2 separate regions of the Homo sapiens genome follow, and region 1 is linked to region 2. Evidence: fine-mapped expression QTL. A gene starts in region 2. The other region holds a variant in brackets. All regions are shown on one strand. Distances are between the middles of the regions.

Region 1 (9,262 bases), 71 kb after region 2:
TGGGATTACCAAAATTATGAGATCTGGTATCTGCCCTTAATGAGCTTACTGTCTAGTCTGCTTGAAAGGAAAGAATATGGAACTATGAAAACTTGCCAAATTGTGATAAGGCTATAGCCTTATCCTCAAGAAAATCAAAGGAATTATAACAGAAACTTATCTGTAAGTAAGGACAGATTCTAAAAAAAACATTCTTTTTTTTTTTTTTGAGATGGCGTCTCGCTCTGTCACCCAGGCTGGAGTGCAGTGGTGCGATATCGGCTCACTGCAAGCTCCGCCTCCCGGGTTCAAGCGACTCTCCTGTCTCAGCCTCCCGAGTAGCTGGGACTACAGGCATGTACCACTACATACAGCTAATTTTTTATATTTTTAGTAGAGACAGGGTTTCACCATGTTAGCCAGGATGGTCTCGATCTCCTGACCTTGTGATCCGCCCGCCTCGGCCTCCCAAAGTGCTGGGATTATAGGTGTGAGCCACCACACCCGGCAGTAAAAAAGACATTGTTAACCTACTATTTGGATGAGTTTCAGGAGTCCCAGGAACTACCTGAAATTATGTCTAAAGTTGTCTGTGTACCAAGGGCCTTTGATTATTACTCTGGGTTGAAGGAGACCCATTCTTAGTTTTTCTTCAGGCTTTGTGGACAAAATAAAATTAAAGAAATATAAGGCCCTACCCGTCTCTGTAGAATTTGTTAATACCATTTTTTAAATCCCAAGTTCTTTCCGTTACAAAAAACTCTAGCAACTCTATTTTAATTCTGTGAATTCTGAGTGTTTTAAGTGTTGGGGATCCAGTAATATCTTCTAAGCATATCTGGAAACTGGGAGTTGGGTGATAGGAGGAGGTTTTTGAATAAAATGAAGAAATCTCAAGCTGAGCTTGACATATGGAGAGGAAACTAACATGCGTATAAAAGAGGCAAACCATAGCAGGCCAGTTTATTCTGCTGTGTTCTGGATGCTCTGGCTTGGAGTCACTCTAATTGGAGCCATGGCTAATTTTGTGCTTTGTGCGATGTGAGGATTTGCTAAATAAAGACTATGTAAACCTTTCATCTCAAGCATCCCAGTTACTCTGTCTCTCTGGAAACTCTGGGGACTAGGAAGCTCAGGAGTTACTAACAATGAGTATTAAAATCAGAAAGATATGGAAAAATATAGAAAGAAAAATGTATTTTAATGAGTTTGTGATCTGTTTACAAGAAAGCAAACAAATTTTTATTTCACTGAAACTGAGGTTGAGAGATGAGGTCTTAAAACACTTAAAATGAGCAAAGGGTAGTAAATGGAGAGTTAATTTTCAAATAATTTATTTTAAAGTTCAAAAATAGTTTTAGTAATTCTGTGTACTGTGTTAGCTTATTGTTTATCTTACAGTGAAAAAAATACTTCTAGCGCCTTAATAGGTATTCATCAATGATCCTTGTCCTTGCCTATTTTCACCTAAAATATCTTTTAAATTTTTTTAACCTTGACTTTTGCTATTAGGGCTGTTGTGATTAAAATCCTGATGATTGGAGAAGAAATGTCTTATCAGAATCTTTATATAGCATAATATACTTTATGATTGTTTATTTAATATTAGTTGCAGAACGTGATGAAACATAGCATGCTTTATTGAAGCCACTGAGAAGCAAGTTGCAATGACGTAAGGGGGAAAATAGAAGTCAAACATCTTAATGAATTTTTTTTTGTAGCTCCCTTATTCCTCATTTAATGAGTAGGTTAGTTGAAGAGACATTGATTGATTGACCAAAAGAACGTTTTGGTACCTCTTGGATTTTATTTAATATAATTGTATAGACATTTTTAGCAATATCTTTTGGCAGCACTCTTCAGTTGTTACATTTTATATGACTCATGCAAATTAACCCTTCTGGGCCAGTCGAGGTGGCTCACGCCTGTAATCCCAGCACTTTGGGAAGCTGAGGTGGGAGGATCACCTGAGGTCAGGAGTTTGAGACCAGTCTGCCCAACATGGTGAAATCCTGTCTCTACTAAAAATAAAAAAAATTTAGGCCCAGTGCAGTGGCTTATGCCTGTAATCTCAGCACTTTGGGAGGCTGAGGGGGGTGGATCACGAGGTCAAGAGATGAAGATCATCCTGGCCAACATGGTGAAACCCTGTCTCTACTAAAAATACAAAAATTAGCTGGGCCTGGTGGCAGGTGCCTGTAGTCCCAGCTACCTGGGAGGCTGAGGCAGGAGAATTGCTTGAACCTGGGAAGTGGAGGTTGCAGTGAGCCGAGATTGCGCTACTGTACACTAGCCTGGCGACAGAGTGAGACTCTATCTCAAAAACAAACAAACAAATTAGCCGGATGTAGTGGCGGGTGCCTGTAATCCCAGCTACTCAGGAGGCTAAGGCAGGAGAATCACTTGAACCCGGGAGGCGGAGGTTGCAGTGAGACGAGATCGCCCCACTGCACTCCAGCCTGGGCGACAAGAGCGAAACTCAGTCTCAAAAAAAAAAAAGAAAAGAAAATTAACCCTTCTGAATGTTTTCCTCATCTATATGATGACAAAAAATACAGTTTACAGTGTGAGATTATATTGTGGCCATGTGATAACTATATTAAGCACCTAGCTCAGTTGTTGGCACTGTTATCAAAGTAGGTATATATTTAAAGTTTTTATTATATTTGGGATAGCCTTTCCATTCCTTATTTATGAACTCTCTATACCATAAGCATTAAAGTAACTTAAGGATTCAACCTGTTTTGAATTTTCCAGTAGTTTGGAATTTTTTTGATAATTGTCACAGGCACTATTTTAGTTTTAATTATTGAATGTAAAGGAATCAAAATGCTCTACAGCAGTTGTTTTCACATTTTATTAATGTTACTGGTGACAGAAAATTATTAAGTAATTTTTTTAAATTACTTAAAATCTATATTAAGATTAAATCCTGTGTTGAGTTTGTTCTGAATTGCAGAACAGTTGAATGTGGACGTGGTCATTCATTCGATCAGTTCCTGCTCCCCTTTTCCCCTCCCCAAATTTTACATTTTGGGACTCTGATTTCATAAAAGGTTGGTTTTGTAACTGGATAGTGACTAAAAATGTAAATTAGTGAGCTGTTATGAATTCTAGTAGAAGTAAGATTTTCTTTTCTATATTTGTTAACAGCAGAAGTAGAAAGTAATGAAAAGGACAACAAACCTGAGGAAGAAGAGCAAGTAATACATGAAGATGATGAAAGACCTTCTGAGAAAAGTATGCATGTATAAACAAACTTGAACTGGATTGAAAAATAATAATTCACTGTTTCTATATTTACAACCGTGTAATATTCTTTTTTGCCCATGAAATAATTGTAAAATTTTGCAATTTCACAACTATACCATTTTGTTGATGGCTAACTGAAGGATTTCTGAAAGTATGTTTCATACACTTCAATATTTTATTTTGTTTATTTATACTTTTTATTGTTCCACAGAAAGATTTAGCTTAAAATTTACTAAGTTACTGAGTGTTTTGAGATAAATTGTTTTAGATTTATGTTTAGAGAATGAAACTACAAGAATTTTGTATGGGCTAACGTAAGTGAATGGAAGGATGTATTTTAGTTCACTTAAGGTTCTTCATCTTCATGGGGCCAGATGTAGTGGCTCACCCCTGTAATGCCAGCACTTTGGGAGGCCAAGATGGAAGGATTGCTTGAGGCCAGTAATGCAAGACCAGCCTGGGTGACATAGCAAGAACCTGTCTCTACAGAAAAAATATTTGAATTAGCCAGGCATGGTGGCACACACCTGTAGTCCCAGCTACTTTGGAGGCTGCAGTGGTAGTATTGCTTGAGTCCAAGAATTTGAGGTTCCAGTGAGCAATGATTGAGCCACTGTACTCCAGCCTGGGTGACAGAGTGACACCTTGAGAGAGAGAGAGAGAAGGAGGGAGGGAGGGAGACAGGAAGGAAGGAAGAGGGAAGGAAGGAAGGAAGGAAAAGGGAAGGAAAGATAAGGTTCTTTAGCTTTATGGGAAGGGAAGGAAATGATGGACTGAGTGTCCTTAGGTTTATGGAAAGATCATTGGACTAGAAGTCAGGAAAGCTGGGTTCAGTAACTTTCCTGTCATGCTGCTATCCATATATGACCATGGGTAAGTTAAGATTGTAAGAGAAATTGTAGAATAGAGTGGATTTACAAGTAGGCATATAGATACAGACACATACAGAGGGATAGGCATGGTCACATAAGAGCATTTGCGTTTAAAAAGTGTGAAGATATTAGTGTTTTAATTTTTTTAGATATTGAAGAAGCCAGATACAAATTTGCTTATGATCTCATGAATATTAACAGCACGTGAAACAGATTTTCTAAGTGAAGTCTTCTAGTCTATATTCTTTATAAATGTACTTTTAATGACATTAATTTTATTTTTATTTGAAATTCATTAGGATATGTTAAGAATAACTATTACTGTGCTAGTTTTGTAAGGCTGATGATTAAGAATTTTTTCCTATACTTACGGAGGAAAAAGAATAAATAATTAAAGCTGTGCATAGTTAAAAATCTGACATGAGAATGAATACTATATTTTGTCAGAGGATTCATGTGCACTGTGACATTTAGTTACAGGAATGAATATGAGATGATTTCATCTACCTTCTTCATGACACAATTGTGAGGCAGTTCTTAGTATGAAGATTTCAAGGAAATTCTGTGTT[C/T]ACAGTGTGCATTGCTTGACCATTAGGGAGTTCTTATTTAGTATATTGAAAGTCATTTGAAGTTTAAAGCTAAAAGCTATATACCTTCTAAGATCTCCAAAACAGTTTACAAAATAGTTGGTTGAGAAGGCTATTATGATAGAAATAATATTTTGCTAAGGATGGATAATATGCATTAAGAGCTATAAGAAAAACACCTGAGTGTGATCATTGTGGTTTTCCTTCTCAGATGAATTTTCTAGACGAAAACGTTCTAAATCAGAAGACATGGACAATGTACAGTCTAAACGTCGTCGATATATGGAAGAAGAATATGAGGCAGAATTTCAAGTAAAGATTACAGCCAAAGGAGACATTAACCAGAAACTTCAAAAGGTATTGTGTCAATTATAAGTTATAAACCATATTGAATAAATAGCACCACTATCTTCTTCTAGGTTTCTGACATTATTCTGTATTTTATTGACATAATGTGGTTTATCATAGAAAGAAAGAACTTGAAGAAAGTGGTTGAGCTTTTAAAGTCTATTACTGGCCAGATGTGGTGGATCACCCCTGTAATCCCAATCCTTTGGGAGGCTGAGGTGGATGGATCACCTGAAGTCAGGAGTTCAAGACCAGCCTGACCAACATGGTGAAACTCTGACTCTACTAAAAATACAAAAATTAGCTGGATGTTGTGGTGGGTGCCTGTAATCCCAGCTACCTGGGAGGCTGAGGCAGGAGAATCACTTGAACCCGGGAGGTGGAGGTGGCAGTGAGCCGAGATCATGCCACTTCACTCCAGCCTGGGTGACAGAGCAAGACTCCATCTCAAAAAAATAATAAATAAATAAATAAATAAGTCTATTACTATCCTTGATAATTTAATTTTAAAATTCTTTCTGACTTCTTTTTGGCTACATCTTTTTTTTTTTTTAAAAAAGGTTATGATTATCAAAACAAGGGAGAGAAGGTAACATTTTTATTTATTTGCTTTGGTAACAAAACTGAATGTTGTTTTTCAGCTTTTCTTTTTCCTTCTCACATTGAACTTTATCTTATTGTGAAAAGGAAATGTTAGAGTTTTAAATATTAGCATTTTAATCTTTATAAAGCTGGTTTCATGGTTATAAGTCTACATTCTAAACTCTTTATTGTGTACTTGAGGGTTAGTATAAAAGTGGTAGAGACAGGGTGTTAAAAGGACTAGAGAAAGGAGTATTTAGAATACGGAGTTTGAAATTCCCCTTACATCTGTTTGACTAGAGATAGAAATAATGAAAATATTCAGTATTTTATGTTTTTCAACATGTGTTCACAAATGTTTTTACAAAGCTTTTCTTAGAGAGGAATATTAAACTTCGATGATAACTAGTTTTTCAAGGTCTTATATATTTAAGGATGACATTTTACAATCAATGTTTTAGGACAAAATTCTTTCATTAAAATATAGCATACATATTTGCACTTTGTAGAAAAAAGAATAGTGAGGCTGTAGAAACTCTCAGTGTTGTTTTTTTCCCCTAGTTTCTTTTTATTTGACATATGGAGATAATAATGCTTATTCAGTCTTTCTTACAGAGCTGTTAGAATTATGAAGGTAGCTATGTGAAAGAATTTTGAAAACTGAGGTTTCCTGAGAGTTTACTTCTTTAGAACAGTGTTACTCAAGTATGGTTCATGGGTATGTGCCAATGTCTTTGTTGTGGACCCATAATGAGAATATGGAACTTTTTAAAAGTTTACTCTCTGGAAATTTTCTATTTTTAGTATGTATTACCCTCTTGAAGTAGATTTTATATATATAAAAGTAGAGGATTTTAGCAGATAGTATTGTGTTACAGATTCTAGCATGTTTTATTCATTAAGTTAGTTTGTCATTACTGTCTTCTTGGTACTTAAGAATATTTACTGGCCGGGCGCGGTGGCTCACGCCTGTAATCCCAGCACTTTGGGAGGCCGAGGCGGGCGGATCACGAGGTCAGGAGATCGAGACCATCCCGGCTAAAACGGTGAAACCCCGTCTCTACTAAAAATACAAAAAATTAGCCGGGCGTAGTGGCGGGCGCCTGTAGTCCCAGCTACTTGGGAGGCTGAGGCAGGAGAATGGCGTGAACCCGGGAGGCGGAGCTTGCAGTGAGCCGAGATCCTGCCACTGCACTCCAGCCTGGGCGACAGAGCGAGACTCTGTCTCAAAAAAAAAGAATATTTACTGTTTATTGCTTGCTGGAATGCCTTCTTGGCATAATGAAGGAATATTTGTTTCTTTAGGTTATACAGTGGTTGCTGGAAGAAAAATTGTGTGCGCTGCAGTGTGCTGTATTTGATAAGACTTTGGCAGAATTGAAAACACGAGTGGAAAAGATTGAATGTAACAAGAGGCATAAAACAGTTCTCACTGAACTACAGGTTTGTACATTGACTTGAGTTGTATACTCCATGTGTCATTGTTTTTATAACTTATTTTCTGAGATATATATTTGAGATTAACTATAAAATACATTTAAATTCTAAATGTAAGAAGGAAAAGGAGTTTGTTTAGTTTGCCAGGGCTGCTGTAAAGAAAGTGCAATAAACTGAGTGGTTTAAACAGTAGAAATATTCTGTCTCACAGTTCTGGAGGCTAGAAGTTGAAGATCAAGGTGTCAGCAGTGTAGATTCTTTTTGAGGGCTGTGCTGTGAGGAAGAATCTGTTCTATGCCTTTACTGTAGCTTCTGTTGGTTTGCGGACAGTTCTTTGGCATTGTAGAAACATCACCCTGATCTCTGGCTTTATCTTTACATGGTGTTGTCCTTGTATGTGTGTCTGTAAATTTCCCCTTTTTACAAGGACACCAGTCATTGGAGTAGGGGCCCACTATACTCCAACATGACTTCATCTTAACTAATTACCTCTGCAATGACCTTCTTTACAAATAAGGTCACAGTCTGAAATACTGGAAGTTTAGACTTCAATATGTGAACTTTTAGGGGACACAGTTCAAACCATAACGGAGACTCAGAAATTCCTGGATCTAACTTAGTGCTTCATATTTTTTTTTCCAGTCACTAAAGGAAGGCTGTCATTTAGCATGCTATAATAAGTACTAAATAATATTTGTTAGGGATTCTTTTTATGTTAATCTACCTCCTTTCGTGGACCTTATGTTTTAAAGATGTTAGTTTAATAACACGTATTTATTAATTTCTACTTGTCATTTTTTATTAAGTACAACTATATCTTAACATACAATACCAGAGCTTCTGGTCAGCTGAAATGAGCACACAGTAGTGTGCTGTAGTAATCTACTTTATTCCAAAGCTAAGAAGCTGGTATTTGAATCAGTACATTCATTCTGTCATAAGTAAGTGTATGGTTCCTATTGGGTTATTTTATATATGAGCATATCCCAAAGATGCTGAGTGGTAAACCATGTATAGGGCCTTATTTTGCAAATGAAGGAAAAGTGGCCCATGGAAGTCAAATCACTTTTTCCGTTACGAATAAAATTTTAGCTAAATAGGATTAGAATTTAAGTGTGTCTCCCAGACTGACCTATCTAATTATTAAACTTCATTTTACTAGTACTGTTCAGACTTTTGAATTAAATTTGAAAATGCCTGAAGATTTGAAAGAATAATTTTATTCATTGTTTCTCATCACACCCACGGGTGCAACTATGAAATTGTGTTTTTAAAACCTAAGTTTTTGGCTGGGCATAGTGGCTCACGCCTGTGAGCTCAGCACTTTAGGAGGCTGAGGAAGGTGAATCTCTTGAGTCTAGCAGTTAGAGACCAGCCTGGCCAATATGGTGAAACCCTGTCTCTACTAAAAATACAAAAAAATTAGCCGAGTGTGGTAGTGCATGCCTGTAGTCCCAGCTACTTTGGAGGTTGAGGCATGAGAATTGCTTGAACCTGGGAGGTGGAGGTTGCAGTGAGCTGAGATCGGGCTACTGCATTCCAGCCTGGGCAACAGAGTGAGACTCTGTCTCCAAAATAAATCCATCCATCCATCCATCCATCCATCCATCCATCCATCCATCCATCCTAAAACAGTTTTCGACACCTATCATCTCACACATAAGGTGCAATCCAGATTTCTTAACATTTAAATTTGTACTTAAATGTTGCTTGTAGTCTCAGAATTTGAATCTTTCTAACACCAAGCCAATCATCTTCTCTGCAAATGTTCCTGTTACTGACAATTTCTGAATTCTTGGAAAACTCTTGAAGGAAAATCTTCCCGTTGTTCCTCTTATTGGCAGCTCTTGAATTCTTGGAAACCGATCCCTCTCAATCATTTCATATACACAGTGAGTTGCCAAGTTACAACTTGATTATTTCCTAGAAAAAATAAATCTCAATTCTTTTCACTTTTCATTAGGCCATCATTACCCAATTCCTTGATTATAGTAACACCTTTTATATGAGCACTCTGGTACTAGTTTTTAAGTTCTTTCTGGTCCTTCCAAAGCATTGTACTAATTTTTCTAAAATACTGATTACTTCAGTCTCTTTATAGTCCAAGTTCCTCAATTGTGTACCGGTAAAACCAGTATTCATTTTTAAAATTTTTAAATTTTAATCTCTTAATTTTCAATCCACTTTTTCTAATATCCACCAGTT
Region 2 (9,262 bases):
AGTGGTGCGATCTCGGCTCACTGCAACCTCCACCTCCCAGGTTCAAGTGATTCTCCTGCCTCAGCCTCCCGAGTAGCTGGGATTACAGGCGCCTGCCACTACGCCCAGCTATTTTTTTTGTATTTTTTGTAGAGACGGGGGTTTCACCATGTTGGCCAGGCTGGTCTTGAACTCCTGACCTTATGATTTGCTGGCCTCAGCCTCCCACAGTGCTGGGATTACAGGCGTGAGCCACTGCGCCTAGCCATATTTTTTTTATTTTTATTTTGGAGACTATCTCACTCCATTACCCAGGTTGGAGTGCAGTGGCCCAGTCTCCCCTCACTGCAACCTCCACGTCCCAGACTCAAGCGATCCTCCCACCTCAGCCTCTCAAGTAGCTGAGACCACGGGCATGCACCACCACACTGGGCTAATTTTTATATTAATTAATTAATTAATTAATTTTTGATTCCGAGTCTCACTCTGTTGCTCAGACTTGAGTGCAGTGGCACCATCTTGGCTCACTGAAACCTCTGCCTCCTAGGTTCAAGCGATTCTCCTGCCTCAGCCTCCCGAGTAGCTGGGATAACAGGCATGCACCACCACACCTGGCTAACTTTTGTATTTTTAGTAGAGACGGTGTTTCACCATGTTGGCCAGGCTGGTCTTGAACGCCTGACCTCAAGTGATCCGCCCACCTTGGCCTCCCAAAGTTCTGGGATCACAGGCATGAGCCACTGCACCCAGCCTAATTTTTGTATTTTTTGTAGAGACTGGTTTTGCCATGTTGTCCAGGCTGGTCTGGAATTTCTAGGCTCAAGTGATTCACCTGCCTCTGCCTCCCAAAGTGCTGGGATTACAGGCATGAGCTGTGCTTGCTCGGGAGGGCTATTTTTATCATCCCCATTTTATAGACTGGGAAACATTTGCGTAGAGAATTTCAGGACACTAAACAAGTAAGAAGTAGAGCCAAGGTTTCAATTCAGGTAGTAAGCCTTCAGAACCTGAAAGCACTAGATTAAGCTTCCTGTTTTATTATTTTGTACTCAGAAACTTCAGTTTTCCATTTCAATGGCTTTTCGGAGTTTATGCTGTTTTTCTTTTTTTTTCTTTGATATGGAGTTTTGCCCTTGTTGCCCAGACTGGAGTGCAATGGCATGATCACAGCTCACTGCAACCTCTGCCTCCTGGGTTCAAGCAAATCTCCTGCCTCAACCTCCCAAGTAGCTGGGATTACAGGCGTGGGACTAATTTTATATTTTTAGTAGATATGGGGTTTCAACATGTTGGTCAGGCTGGTCTCGAACTCCTGACCTCAGGTGGTTCACCTACCTCGGCCTCCCAAAGTGCTGGGATTACAGGTGTGAGCCACCGCGCCCGGCCTATGCTGTTTTTAAAAAGTTCTGTTTTCTTTGTTCAGTTGCTACAACTGAAATGTATTGGTTTATATTTATTATTTTAGTTTAGGTCTTTTTTTTTTTTCTTTTTTTGTGAGACAGGTTCTATGATCCTACTTTACTCTAGCACTTTTTCCTAGGAAAATTATATTTAGCCTGTATCATTTTAGCCTAAATATACCAATAAAAACATAATGGTAGATAAAATATGAAAATCCTTTTGTACTAACTGGTAAGTAGCTGCCCCATCCTACCACACCCTTCATACCACCAAGTCAGGCTCAGTCCCCAGCTGAAGAGCCTCTGGACCTCTTCAAGATCCTACAACTAAAGAATTAACACCTGACAAAATAGGGTGGGGGGAGGGAAGTCTTCAAGCCTGCTTCCATTCTGATTGGTCAGTGATATAGGGATTGATAAATATTTTAAATGTGGTCCTACCTAGAAGTCTTAAGTTCAGCTTTTTTCATTCTTCATTGTTTTTGTATTTTCTGTTATTTTCTAACTTGAATACTTTCTTTTGTACCTAGTCTGACAGCCTAGGTACAAAGTTCTACATCATAAGTCAGGTCAAGTATCACTTCCTCTGTGAAGTTTTCCCATATAGTATGAGGAAGATTTAGGTTCTCTCATTTTAGAATTTTTTTATGCTTAAGACATACCACCAAAATATTAATGATCTCATAATGTTTATCTGTATTTACAACTCTTTCCCCATGAGAAACAGTGTCATTTCCTTTGGGCATCCCCAGTGCCCAGAATAGTTTGTGAGACATTATAAATATTGTATTCATTGAACAAATCAATGAATAGTTGATTAGGTCAACCAGCGGGTTTGCATGGCTGAAGAGACTGTAACTGTGGTTGAGGATATCTGAGGAGATTCGAATCCAATAAAATTGTCTAGTTGGAGTCTTCAGGAGGCAAGTCTAGAATATGAGCATATCTAAGAAAACTGATAAATCTGTGGTTATGCTGAATTATTTTTCCATTTGCTATTAGCATGGATAATCAAGAATAGACTATCATAGGCCAAGCATGGTGGCTCATGCCTGTAATCCCAGCACTTTGGGAGGCTGACGTGGGCAGATTACCTGAGGCCAGGAGTTCGAGACCAGCCTGGCCAATATAGCAAAACCCCATCTCTACTGAAAATACAAAAAATTAGCCGGCCGTGGTAGAGTGTGCCTGTAGTCCCAGCTACTCAGGAAGCTGAGGCAGGAAAATCGCTGAACCTGGGAGGCAGAGGTTGCAGTGAGCTGAGATCGTGCTACTGCACTCCAGCCTGGGCAACAGGGCAAGACTGTCTTAAAAAAAAAAAAAAAAAAAGAAAGAAGGCCAGATGTGGTGGCTCACGCCTTTAATCCCAGCACTTTGGGAGGCCGAGGCGGGTGGATCATGAGGTCAGGAGTTTGAGACCAGCCTGGCCAAGATGGTGAAATCCTGTCTCTACTAAAAACACAAAAATTAGCTGGGCGCGGTGGTGGACGCCTGTAATTTCAGCTACTCAGGAGGCTGAGGCAGGAGAATTGCTTGAACCCGGGATGTGGTGGTTGCAGTGAGCTGAGATCACGCCACTGCATTGTAGCCTGGGCAACAGAGCAAGACTCTGTCTCAAAAAAAAAAAAAAGAATAGACTATTATAAAAATGATTCTTTTTTATATGCTTACAGAAGACATAAAAAGAGAAACATAATGGGCTCTAGTATTCCAATCCAATTTCTCTTATTATTATGGAGTGTAACATTTAATATCAATATTTCTAATTTTCTGAGCATCTACTTATAATTGAGCACTGATGTACTATGAAAATTATAATAAATAAATTATAATTGAGCATCTATAATTTATTGAGTATATGCTAAGGACTGTGCTAATGATGTTACAACATTTAGCGATTAAACAATGCAAATTTAATTGTGTTATATCCCGACTTAAAACCTTTTAAATGATTCCTCATTGCTGTCCCAATGAGGTCCAACTTTTAGGCAAAAAATTAATTAAATCATTTATCATGATAGAGATGACCTCTTCTAGGAAGGCTTTTCTAATTCTCTAGGTCTGGATTAGGTGATATTTCTTTTTTTTTTCTTCGAGATGGAGTCTCACTCTGTTGCCCAGGCTGGAGTGCAGTGGCGTGATCTTGGCTCACTGCAACCTCTGCCTCCCGGGTTCAAGTGATTCTCCTGCTTCAGCCTCCCGAGTAGCTAGGACTACAGGCGCGTGCCACCACGACTAGCTAATTTTTTTTTTTTTGTATTTTTAGTAGAGGCGGGGTTTCACCATGTTACCCAGGATGGTCTCGATCTCCTGACCTCATGGTCTGCCCGCCTCGGCCTCCCAAAGTGCTGGGATTACAGGCGTGAGCCACTGCACCCGGCCCTAGGTGATATTTCTAAAGGCCACCTTATATTTTAAGTAAATTGAATGGTTCCAGTTATAAAAATAAGTATTAACAACCCTATTCTAATTTCTTATTAGTTACAAAAATTTCTTGTTCAGTTTTCTGTCTTCTTCACTAGAGTACAGATTTCTTGAGGACAGGCACCTAACAGATCTACAACACAGTGATTGCTAAATAAATACTGAACCAATACATTCATATAATGAGAAGTTACATAAAAAAACAATAACCACACGGTACCATCTAATATTATTTTCAGGCTATTCTTGCCTTGCAAAACATATGTACTTTTATTCTTTTTTTTTTTTTTTTTTTTTGATAAGGGGTCTTGCTCTGTAGCCCAGGCTGGAGTGCAGTGGTGAGATCTTCGCTCACTGCAATCTCGGCCTCCCAGGTCCCAGTTCAAGCAACTCTCCTGCCTCAGCCTCCTGAGTAGTTGGGATTACAGGCACGCACCACCATGCCTAGCTAATTTTTGTAATTTTAGTAGAGACGGGGTTTCACTATGTTGGCCAGGCTGGTCTTGATCTCCTGACCTCAGGTGATCCACCCCCCCTCAGACTTCCAAAGTGCTGGGATTACAGGCCTGAGCCACGGCACCTGGCCAAAACATATGTACATTTATTCTATCATTTAGTGCTTCCAACCTAGTTCAACTATAGTCATGATTGCCATTATACAGGTGAGAAAACTGAGTAACACACTTATTCCGAGGAACCGGCAAGGAAGCTGCAGTAGTTGAACTTGAACCCAGATCTCTTAACCAGTAAGGCAGTGACTTGTCCACTACCTCCTGTGGAATTCATTAAAGGCCGACTCCCAGCATGAAATTGAATAAATGGGATGAATACAACTTCTGGTGAGAGAGTATGATAAAAAGTGCTTGCTCTGTTACCAAGCAACTGAAAGAAAGTATGTTTTTTTCATTCCTTCATTATTAATACAATTCAAAGTACATTCTGTGAATTTAAAACATAAATGATGAATAAATCAACATACTCCTGGCTTTTATGAAAATCTTTCCCTCTGCTCTTTAAACTCTCACCTACCTCCTTCCTTCTTTCTTTTCTAAGCCTCATAGAGGGCGCTCACAAAGTGCTACTTATTGATTGAGGAAGATCCACTCAAAAAACACACCTCACACTGCAACTGAGAGACGCAGCGCCACCACCTCGGGCTTCCTTCTCTTTTCCACGCAGGAGGCGGGGCCAATGTCCCTCATTCAAATAAAAAACCAGAATTTGCATGGGGAATGGCTAGTCCTTGAGCTTATTGGCTGATAGCACAGTGGGCGGGGTACATAGCACGACCCCCCGGAGCCCCGCCCATATTAATTTGCATAACGGCCCCGGCGCGTGCAAGGGAGAAGCGGGTTTGTTTTTGAATCTGCGGAGGCGGCGGCGGTGGCAGCGGCGGCGCGGCGACTGAAGCGCGCGAAAAGCTGAGGCGGCAACGTCGGGGACGGCTGCGCGGGACGGCTCTGTAGGAAGGAACTTGGTTCCCCCTCCCTCAGCTTCCGCCCCAAAAGGTATATGTGAATCCCAGGGGCTGTTAAAACCACATTTTCTTAAATTACTATTGTATTTCTGAAGAGTCAAGACCGCATTATGGCGGCTGCGGGAGTTGTGTCTGCGCCTGCGCGGTTGCGGAGCTGCGGGCGGCGCTGCATGGGAGCACGTGATCTTGCGGGGTCGGGCTCTAGCTGCAGTTGTGCAGCTGGCGGGGCGGTGGCTGCGCAAGCGCAATATTCATTTTCAAGATCTAATGTTCTTGTTGGACGCCATTTGGGTTCTAGATTTAATTTTCCTCGTTCTTGAGGGGTTTCTTTGTGTTAACCTTAAATTCTCACAATTTTCAAGAAAAACATTACTCTAATGTTGTACTCCTGGGCCGACCTCAAGCTCTTCTCTGTTTTTTCGATTTTTTGAAAAATTGTGGACTTAATTTTCTGTAAAAATGATTTTCATTTGTGGTTCTTGATTATAATTTCAGTTTTAAAGTATTACTGGATTCAGGTTTATATTTACGGTGGTAAAGATCAGCACCTAGTGGTGTTCTCACGGGAAGTGCATTTATTTGAACTGCATATTTGCAAATACATTTTTAACCCTATTTTTACCTGTTCTGTTATGGATGTGTGGAATGTTTACAAAACAGAAACAATTTTAGTTTTGGGAATATTGGGGGAACGGGAATAGTGGAAGAAATTACAGTATAATCGAAAATGAAATCTCAATCTGAGGATTATTTTGGTTTTAAATGTTTGATCCTAAGTAAATAAAGTTTTAATTTTAATCAGTTTGTATGTTTCTGGGCATTTGAATTTTACATGTTTTAAGTTTCTTAGGTGACTTGTTCATTACTGCTTCAGCTAGATTATTGTTACTTTTGAAATTAATCAACTCATTTTCTTAGCATTTTTGTTTGCTATGATATGTAAGCTATAACATTTATTTGGTAAATTTTTCTGATGAAGAATTCTAGAAAGAACATCCATTACCCTGAGGCCTCTTTGAAGAAAGTGGACCATTAATAAAAAAAATCTGTTTTTTTCTTTTAAACACTGTACTGTATGCATGTGTGTAAGATACAGTTGTGTTTGATTTTTTAATTGTAAGTGTGCTCCTGGTTTTATTAATAGTTTTTTAGGGAAGGTAATTATAAATATGCTACTGATTAGTTTAAAATGGTAGTGTCAACTATAGTTAAATCTTATGTAACACAATTGGGGGAAGTTATATAAGATTTGATATGATTCTCCCGTTGTGCAAATTCTTTCTTACTAAGCAAAGAAACTTGCAAATGTTTTCCATAGACTTCATTTGTGGTTCATATATACAACAACTGGTTTCTTGGTTGGTTATAACTCTTTAAGTTTGAATCAGTCTACTGTCAAATGAAGACGTGCCTCTTGCTTTATAATCTCGGTTAATTTAGGGAAATTTTTATTGCCTAAAACAAATACCATTAGTAAATATTACCTAGATGTAATTGAAAGTAATACTTTTGGTTGGTGGATTTTTAAATGACGTCACATATGAGATAGAATGGAGGTAGGAAAGATTCTTCTTTTTTTCTCAAGAGAATATTTGACCTGATGTAATTCTTGGATCTCTGAGGTCTTCTACACAGAAGTATATTTAGAGAGCAGTTGTGTAATTTTCTCCCTTTTATGTTTCTGGAGTGGTTACCTAGCAGCCCCTTTCTACCACATGCTATTTCAGGCATTTTCGAGTTGAACATACACATAAATATTTCGGTTAACAAAAGAACTTTGATCTTTGATCTTAGGGCATGGTACACTTTACATTTCCAGAAAAATGAAATAGTTTGGTGTATATAAGCGTATGTTTTCATTTGAATATACAGATGATTGCTTTTTAGGTTAATATTGAAGGTAGTAAGAGGTATTTGAAAATGCTCTTGAATATGAAGAACATATTTATTGATGGGACGATTTTGCTGTCATGTTTCTTACAAGGCAGATATAATCATGTAAACTTAATAAGATTAATTAATTGCCTGAACACCAACTATTTGTTTATTAGTACTTTGTCAATAACAAGTATATTTTAAAATTTTAGTTTGGTGGTTATGATGCCACAAAATTTTGACACATATCCAACATATATAAATATTAAGACTAGGTTACTCCAGGAATGAATACCAAGTTACTGAAGTTATTTAAAATCTTTGTAGTTTTGTAAATTTAAAAATTTATATGTAGTTTAGAAAAGACAGGTTTGAGTTATTAAACAATTAGAACTATTTTTTCTTTAAATTAGGTTTTGCATATGTGATAAATGTATTTAAATATTTTTAAACTTATTCATTATAGAACATTTGGAAAATATTGAAAATTAATTAACAATGCTTAGAAATAACCACTCTAAAGGTATTGGTGATTTGTGACTTCACTTTTCCATGATTGAGCAATCTATAAATGTTTATTAATTAGTTTTTCATTGGTACCATAATTTCATTTCTACTCTTTTAATGTTATGAGTATTTTCCCATTTCATTATTCTTCTAAAATATGTCTTTAAATGGTTGCATGATACTTTATTATAATATCCCACATGATCAAATGTTCTTTTTAAACACATTTTAAAATGGTTACATATTATTGTTATCTCTAAGAAGAATTTACTGTGATTTATTAAACCTTTCATTTTTTGTTTCCTGTTTTGCTTTTTGCTCATTTCTCTATTAAAAATAATGCTACAGTGAACGTTCTTGTACTATACCTCAGAATATTTCTTTGAAATTACTTTCAAAGGACTTTTAAAGTAATTTGCAAAATTGATAAAAACTTTTTTTTGAAAAGCATTTTTTATCATATTCAATACCACCATCAATTAGATGGGTGAAAAATAGTAGCTCATTAACTTTTTTTGATAACTAGTGAAGTTGAATTTGTTATTGTTTTATATATGCATTTTTTTCATTTTCTGTGAATTAGCTGTTTGACTTTTTGTGTATTTTTCTATGATGAGTGTTACTGTTTTTCTTATTTGTTGGTAACAGCTACTTACGGCTTTGGGGTCCTTAGCTTTTAATATTTGTCACAGTAATTTTAAAATTACCTTTTAAGTGGTTTATGATTGTATATGTTAAGAAGTTTTGCATTTTTATGTAGTAAAATGTACTGCCCCCCTTTTTTTTTTTGAGATAGGATCTTGCTCTGCTGCGCATGCTAAAGTGCAGTGGCAGTGATCTCTGCCCACTGCAGCCTCGACCTCCCAGGCTCAAGCAATTCTCCCACCACTGGAGTAACTGAGACTACTGGTGAAGGATATCACACCCCGCTAATTTTTTCTTTTTTTTTTTTTTTTAATAAACAAAGCCTCATTATGTTGCCCAGGCTGGTCTTGAACTCCAGGGGTCAAGAGAGTTTCCCACTTCAGCCTCCCAAAGTGCTGAGATTACAAGCATGAGCCACCATGTCCAGCCTGTACTGCCTTTCCTTTTTCCTTTATGATTTCTACAGCACTTGTCTGCCCAGAAAATATTACCTGTTGTAAGGTGAATTGTATGTTTATATTGTATTTTATTTTATTATTATTGTTTTTTGAGGTGGAGTCTAGCTCTGTCTCACAGGCTGGAGTGCAGTGGTGTGATTTTGGCTCACTGTAACCTCTTCTTGGGTTCCAGCGATTCTGCTACCTGAGCCTCCCAAGTAGCGGATTACAGGCGTGCACCACCATGCCCTGCTTTTAGTAGAGACGGGGTTTCCCCGTGTTGGCCAGGCTCGTCTTGAACTCCTGACCTGAGGTGATCTGCCTGCCTTGGCCCCCACAGTGCTAGAATTACAGGTGTGAACCACCGTGCACAGCCTTGTTCATGTGTTTTGTTAATTTTTTACTAGAACTTTTTCTGGAAGTTTTAATAAACTTAAAAAATACTTTTACATCTATGTGGACATATCTGTGTTTTGACATATTGTGTGTTAAGATAAGTTGCTAGTTTCCATTTTTTT

The links. PIP is the estimated chance that this variant, and not a neighbour inherited with it, causes the effect. A credible set is the group of variants that fine-mapping cannot tell apart.
Region 1: its variant is the best candidate, but not a certain one, in a credible set for the expression of ATF7IP in whole blood (TOPMed, PIP 0.78).

The regions. Positions count from the first base shown.
Region 1 is chr12:14,431,205-14,440,466 of GRCh38, forward strand. ATF7IP (activating transcription factor 7 interacting protein) reads left to right here. Exons shown (of 15, transcript NM_018179.5): 3 at 3,133-3,219; 4 at 4,902-5,047; 5 at 6,926-7,063. Among named protein-coding and RNA genes, the nearest start is that of ATF7IP, 70 kb to the left of the region's middle. The variant C/T (reference allele first, on the strand shown) is at 4,673.
Region 2 is chr12:14,360,517-14,369,778 of GRCh38, forward strand. ATF7IP (activating transcription factor 7 interacting protein) reads left to right here and starts at 5,166. Exons shown (of 15, transcript NM_018179.5): 1 at 5,166-5,311. It overlaps LOC124902884 (a long non-coding RNA gene), which reads right to left and starts at 6,674. Exons shown (of 2, transcript XR_007063220.1): 1 at 4,833-6,674. RefSeq lists enhancers at 4,747-5,564, 4,796-4,855, 5,326-5,385, 6,742-6,881.